Homo sapiens: one gene and its partner. The protein of the gene in region 2 purifies or fractionates together with the protein of the main gene of each other region. This does not show direct contact. Each region holds a gene or a part of one and is shown on either strand. Other genes may lie near its edges.

The links. Proteins that work in one complex are often made in the same cells at the same time.
Region 1: the proteins of SLC12A5 (region 2) and SUGT1 purify together in Homo sapiens (affinity purification with mass spectrometry; one large-scale study listed by BioGRID and IntAct). This does not show direct contact.

What each region holds. Positions count from the first base shown.
Region 1 is NC_000013.11:52,680,210-52,683,863, reverse strand, and holds part of SUGT1 (protein SGT1 homolog), read right to left. Parts: intron 1-3,654. UniProt on the Homo sapiens protein: May play a role in ubiquitination and subsequent proteasomal degradation of target proteins.
Region 2 is NC_000020.11:46,039,199-46,042,852, forward strand, and holds part of SLC12A5 (solute carrier family 12 member 5), read left to right. Parts: intron 1-1,174; coding exon 1,175-1,416; intron 1,417-2,130; coding exon 2,131-2,342; intron 2,343-3,654. UniProt on the Homo sapiens protein: Mediates electroneutral potassium-chloride cotransport in mature neurons and is required for neuronal Cl(-) homeostasis.

The DNA of each region.
Region 1 (3,654 bases), on a different chromosome or scaffold from region 2:
ATACAAACACTGACAACTTGGACAAAATGGATAAATTTATCAGAAACAAACCACAAGTCACCCATATGAAATAGATAATTGGAACAGTCCTATAAAAACTTTTAGGTTAACTAAATTCATAACTGTAAATCTCCTAATAAAGAAATCTCCAGGCCCAGACCGTTTCACTGGTGAGTTCTACCAAATACTTAAGAAAAGTTAACACCAATTATACACAATATCTTCTAAAAAACAGAAGAGGATGCAATGCTTCCTAATTCATTTTATGAAGTATTACTCTGATGCCAAACCAAAGATAGCACAAAAAGAAAATTAGACTCATATTCCTCATGAATATAGACACAATAACCCATAACAAAACATTAGAAGATAGAATTAAGAGATACACTATATGACAAAGTAGGGCTCATGCAAGACTGTCTCAATACTTGAAAATCAATCATATTAATCATATAAAATCACCATATTAACAGGCTAAGGAAGAAAAATCATATAATCCTATCAATCAACACAGACAAAACATCTGACAAAAAGTTAATATTGAAAGTTAATGATAAAAAAATTTCAGAAAAATAGGAATACAACAGAACTTTCATAACTTGACAAAGATCATCTACCAAAAATTTACAGTTAACATTATACTTAATGATGAAACAACAGATACTTTTCCCTTAAAATGGGAAACAAGGCAAGGATGTCCACTCTCACTACTCTTATTCAACACAGTGCGGAAGTTGCAGCCAGTGAAATATAGCAAGAAAAGGAGATAAAAGGCATACAGATAGAAAAGGGAGAAATAAAACTCTCCGTATCTGCAGATAAATAAAACCTCCATATTTGAAGATGATTGTCCACATTAAAAAAATGACAATCTATCCAAAAATACTCCTAGAACTGAGTCCAGCAATGTCACAGAATACAAGATAAACATAAAATTAACTGTATGTCTAGATTCTAGTAATGAACACCAAAATTATATATAATCACTTTATTCTAAAATTTACATGGAAAGACAAATGAGTTAGAATATCTAAAAACAATTGTGAAAATAAAGGATAAAGTAGGAGGAATGAGTCTGCCCAATTTCAGACTTAAACAGCTACAGCTTAAGACAGTGGGACTGACAGAGGAACATACATATAGATCACATACAGCTCAATCTAACACAGTGGGGAACTTAGAAATAGACTCACACAAATACGCTCAACTGATTTTTAAGAAAGGTGCAAAAGCAATTCAATGAGAAAAGATAGGTGCCAGAACACCCGAACATACTATCCACCCCACAAAAAGGAACCTCAAGTTAAATCTCACACTTGACATAAAAATTCAAAATGCATCACAGACTTAAATGTAATATGTAGGCCAGGTGCTGTGGCTCACGCCTGTAACTCTAGCACTTCAGGAAGCCAAGGCCGAAGGACTGCTTGAGGTCAGAAGTTCGAGACCACCCTAAGCAATACGGAGACACCCCCACCTCTACAAAAAATTTTAAAAATTAGCCAGGCATGGCAGCATGGATGTGTAGTCCCATCTACTTGGGAGGCTGAGGCATAAGGATCACTTGAGCCCAGGACTTTGAGGTTACAGTGAACTGTGACTGTGCCACTGTACTTCAGCCTGGGTGACAGAATGAGACCCTGTCTCTAAATAAAAAATAAATGTAATATGTAAAACAATATTACTTTTATTTATTTTTTAAATAGGAGAGAGTCTTTGAGATCTAGGACTAGGCAAAGAGTTAATAAGACCTGAAACTAAAAGCATGATCCATAAAAAGCGGTAAATTAGACTTAATCAAAATGAAATATTTTGGTTCTATGAAAGACCCTATTAAGAAAATGAAAACTACATACTGGGAGAAAATATGTGTAAACTACATATCTGACAAAGATTGCCAGATTTGTGATCATCAGGGATCATGGAAGGGTGGGGGTGGGGTTAGTATGGCCATAAGATAGCAACATAAGGGATCCTTGGAATCCATGAAAATGTTCTATCTCTCTCTCTCTCTTTTTTTTTTTTTTAAAGAGATAGGGTCTCACTTTGCTGCCCAAGCTAAGTGTAGTGGCACGATCATAGCTCACTGCAACCTTGAACTCCTGGGCTCAAACAATACTCTTGCCGCAGACGCCTGAGCTGACAGGGGCACAACATCATGCCAAGGTAGCTTTTAAATTTCTTGTAGAGACCAGAACTTACCATATTGTCCAGGCTGGTCTAGCCTCAAGGGATCCTGTGGCCTCAGACTCCCAAAGCACTGGGATTAAAGGTTCCCTATCTTAACTGTCAGTATCATGGTTGTGATGTTGTAGCATAGTTTTGACAAAATGTTTCCATCAATGGAAACTTTGTAAAAGGTACAAAGAATCTCATTTCTTAGGATTGCATGTCAATCTACAATTATCTCAAAACTAAAAGTTTAATGAAGACTTTTTTTTTTTTTTTGAGACAGGGTCTCTGTTGCCCAGGCTGTAGTTCAGTGGCACAAAAAAACAGCTCACTGCAACCTTGACCACCCAGGCTCAAGAGATCCTCCCACCTCACCTTCCCAAGTAGCTAAGACCACAGACACATGCCACCAGGCCTAGCTAATTTTTTTTTTTTTTTTGTAGAGATAGGGTCTCTCTATGTTGCCCAGGCTAATCTCAAGATCTTTAGCTCAAGTGATCCTCCCACCTCAGTCTCCCAAAAGTGATGAAAAAAAATTTTTTAATCAATAGTGAGGCTGGTTGAGGTGCCTCACGCCTGTAATCCCAGCACTTTGGGAGGCTGAGGCGGCTAGATTGCTTGAAGCCAGGAGTTCGAGACCAGCCTGGGCAACGTGGCGCAACCCCACCTCTACAAGAAATAAAGTAGCCAGGCGTGGTGGTGCATGTCTATAGTCCCAGCTACTGCAGAGGCTGAGGTAGGAAAATCACTTGAGCCCGGCAGACAGAGGCTGCAGTGAGCCGAGATCACGCCACTGTACTCAAGCCTGGGCAACAGAGTGAGACCTTGTCTCTAAATAAATAAACTGTGAAAAGCACAATCATGACCAATTACCACAGATTTCTTAAGTGTGAAATACCTAAGCCTCAACCACATTAACTAAATATTAAATTAAAATACTAATTTTAACTTTCTACTGTAAATATGTCTTAAAAGAGTCATATTTCCAGAGCTACTGGTATTAATAAAAGTCACATGATTACAACTGCAAGCTAAATATACAATGACGAATTATTACTAAAATTTTGAGGTCTAATTTAGGTATTTATGCTGCCCTGACAAAAAGCCTGAATTTTCTTAATCAAGAGAGTTGTTAAACCAATGAATAACGTGCACCTTCTACTTGCAAACACTATTCTGAAAAGTTTCGTATCTATATTCTTCATCTCTAACACTGAGGCTACATATGAGTCTAGAAGGGAAACAACAGAAGTTCACTCAGCTACTGGGATAAATCCAAGTGAGATGACTCCATATCAATCTAACTCACTGATAAAAAATACCTATTTAAGATAAACCACTTGTTTCTCATCTCTTCCATAAGTTTTCAACTTCCTCAAAAATTACTCTTAGAGCAAAAAGAAACGTTCAGACAGACCTTATTCAAAAAGTTCTCCCAGCTATAGTACACGCAATTTGGTCTCACATTACCAATTTTCTCGT
Region 2 (3,654 bases):
AATAACTCTTGGAAGAATGTAAACGTTAATATTTAGCATGGGAATTTTAGAAAATACAGATGTGCATAAAGAATAGATTATCCACATTTTTTACGATTCAGGGAAAACTACTGACAACATTTTGATGTACTTATGAAAACACATACAGACGTATACTAATATACGTATATATCTTCACATACACATTTATAAAAATGAGATAATGAGACATATTCTTTTTCAAAAACCTGATTGTGTTCACCTAATGTACCATGGATAGCTTTTAAAGTCAGTCCATATAAATCTATGTCATCTGGCCGGGCACAGTGGCTCATGCCTGTAATCCCAGAACTTTGGGAGGCCGAGGCAGTTGGATCACCTGAGGTCAGGAGTTCGAGACCAGCCTGACTGATACGGTGAAACCCCGTCTCTACTAAAAATACAAAAATTAGCCAGGGGTGGTGGTGGGCACCTCTAATCCCAGCTACTCGGGAGGCTGAGGCAGGAGAATCACTTGAACCCAGGAGGTGGAGGTTGCAGTGAGCCAAGATCGTGCCACTGCACTCCAGCCTGGGCAACAAGAACAAAACTTTATTTCAAAAAAAAAACAAAAAAACCACCACCACAATAAAAAACCAACAACAACAATAAAAAACCAACTACATCATCTTTTTTAATAGCTCCATAGTCTGTGGGGATATCATGATTTATTCACCCAACCTCGAGTGATGAACATTTATTTCCACCTTTCTATTAGAAATTATTAAAATGATAAATAATTATTAAGAATTATAATTAACAAAAATAACAGAAGTAATTGCTTCCAGCATCCTTGCAATGTCATTTTTTAAAAAATGTATTTTTATTTGTTTTTGAGATGGGGTCACATTATGTTGCCTAGGCTGGTATTGAAATCCTGGCTTCAAGTGATCCTCCCACCTTGGCCTCTCAAAACACTGGGATCACAGGTGTGAGCCACCATGCCTGGCCTTATAATGTCATTTTTAAATGGCTGCATCATAGTCCTTGCAGGACAGGCCATGCCTTCTTTAGCGATTCTCCTATTACTGGATGTCTTTTCCAGTCTGGTACCACTGTGACTGTGCTGTGATGAGCATCTTTTTTCCTAAAGCGCTGCATGTAGTGCAAAGGGCTGCTGACTTAGGTATCTGTTCTTCCTGCCCCTTTCCCACAGGCTTACCTCTTCCCAGCCATGGCCATCTTCAAGGCAGAAGATGCCAGTGGGGAGGCAGCAGCCATGCTGAACAACATGCGTGTTTACGGCACCTGTGTGCTCACCTGCATGGCCACTGTGGTGTTTGTGGGTGTCAAGTATGTCAACAAGTTTGCCCTTGTCTTCCTGGGTTGTGTCATCCTCTCCATCCTGGCCATCTATGCTGGGGTCATCAAGTCTGCCTTCGACCCACCCAACTTCCCGTGAGTGCTGCTGCTCTGAGCCCAAGGAATCGTCCTCCTACCTCCCTGGCCCTGTTTCAGAGTCTCTGCCAAACTCCCCCTCCCTGCCCCTCAGAATCTCAGAGTGGTGTGGGTTGGGAGTAGCTTCCCTTGGGAGGGAAAATCTCTCTTAGTTTGGGGGCAATCTCTTCAGAGTGAGGTAACTTTTCTGGAGGAGGGAACAATTTACCTTGTAAGAGTCAACTTCTTGCTGGTAGGGTGGACTTAGGAAGAATTAAGTGGGAATGAGTTCCAAAGCAATGAATGCTGTCTGTGGTAGGGAAACCTTTCCTGGGTGGGGACAACCTCCTGGAATGGGACAATCTCCTAGTGTTGGACAACTCCTCCAGGATGGGAAAAGACACAGAAGTCTACAGGGTCCAGGGACTCAGATCCAAGTCCACTCCATCCACTGCTCAGAGGTGGAGGGCGGCCCCCGAGACCGCTGTCCACGGTGCTGAAACACAGCATTGCACTAATGCGGTGCTTCTCCACCTTGGCTGCTTATTAGAATCACTTGGGGAGCTTAAGAAAAAAAAAAAAAAGCCAATGGCCAGGCTTCATTTAAATTAAACGAGGAACTCTGGATATGGGGACCTGGCGTCCGTGTGTTTAAAAGGTCTCCCGGTGGCTGTATTGTGCAGCGAGGGCAAGGTTATGTGGCTCCCCACCTTCCTCCCTTGTTTCTCTCCCTAGGATCTGCCTCCTGGGTAACCGCACGCTGTCTCGCCATGGCTTTGATGTCTGTGCCAAGCTGGCTTGGGAAGGAAATGAGACGGTGACCACACGGCTATGGGGCCTTTTCTGCTCCTCTCGCTTCCTCAACGCCACCTGTGATGAATACTTCACCCGAAACAATGTCACAGAGATCCAGGGCATCCCTGGTGCTGCCAGTGGCCTCATCAAAGGTCTGCGGAGGGACAAGGGCTGGCATCCAGGGAACGCTGCAGGGATTGTAGGTTAAGCGGTCAGGATTAAGGGGCCCTCCTTGGGATTCAGCTAAATTCAATCAGCTTTAATTGAGCACCTACTCTGAGTTACATTCTGTCCTTGGCATCAGGGAGGAGTAAGGTGAAAAGGAGACAAGTATCTCACCGCTAGTAGGAAAAGAAGTCATCAACGTAACAGGTGGTCACTGAGCACCTACAGAGTGCCCAGCATTGTGCTGAGTGCTAGGAACACAAAATAAATAAGCCACAGTTCCTGGCCTCAAGGAGACTAATGGCAGAAATAGATGTAATAGCAAATACATTATGCCATATGTAGATGTGCATTCAATGCACAGAGAATGCCCGGGGGGGGAGAGTTCATGTGTATAAGATGGCAATAGGCTTCCTGGACTCAACTGAGGAGGGTTTTGAAGGACAAATGAAAGATCTTCAATTCTATGAGAGGAGTAAGGAAATTGCAACCAGAAGAACAGCTTGCCTAAAAGCAGGCAGAGGCAGAAGAGTTTATTGTGTCTTTCCAATCACAAGTAATTTGGTATGACTGGGGCATAAAGAGCAAAATAAGGTGGAGAAAGAAGCGATGTAGGAGAGGCTGGCATGAGCCAGATCATGGCAGGCCTTGGAAGCCATTTTGGAGAGTTGGGACCACATTCTGAAGGCAATGAGGAGCCACCAAGGGGTTTTGGGAAAGGGAGGGACGTGGTCAGATCTCCATTTTTTGAAGGTTCATTCTGGCTGCTAATGTGGATGGGTTAAAGGGGTGAGAGGAGAGAGGCAGGGGGCCCAGGAAGGGGCTGAGGCTATGAGTCCAGGAGAGAGAGATGGTGGTTTTCTGAGTGAGAGTGATGGAATGATGTCTGTGGGAATTACTGCAGTGCTTCTCAACCAGGGCTGTTTTGCCACCCAGTAAACATTTGGCTGTGTCTGCAGACGTTTTTGGTTGTCAAAACTGGAGGGGTGTACCTGGCATCTAGTAGGTAGAGGCCACGATGCTGCTAAACATCCTACAATGCTATAGGACAGTCCTCCACAGCAAAGAATTATCTGGCCGGGAGTGTCACTAGTGCCACAGTGGAGAGACCTTGGAATGGAGAGAAGGGGCATATTTAAGAAATATTAAGGAGGGGTTAAAGGACAGAAGTTGGAGGTGGTATTGAAGTTGGGGAAGGGGAGAGGGAGCAGTGTAGGGCAGGGTGTCAGAATTGATGATGGTGCCATTTACTGAAATATGGGATGCAGGAAAGGAGCTGGTTTGGGGTGGGTGGAGGGT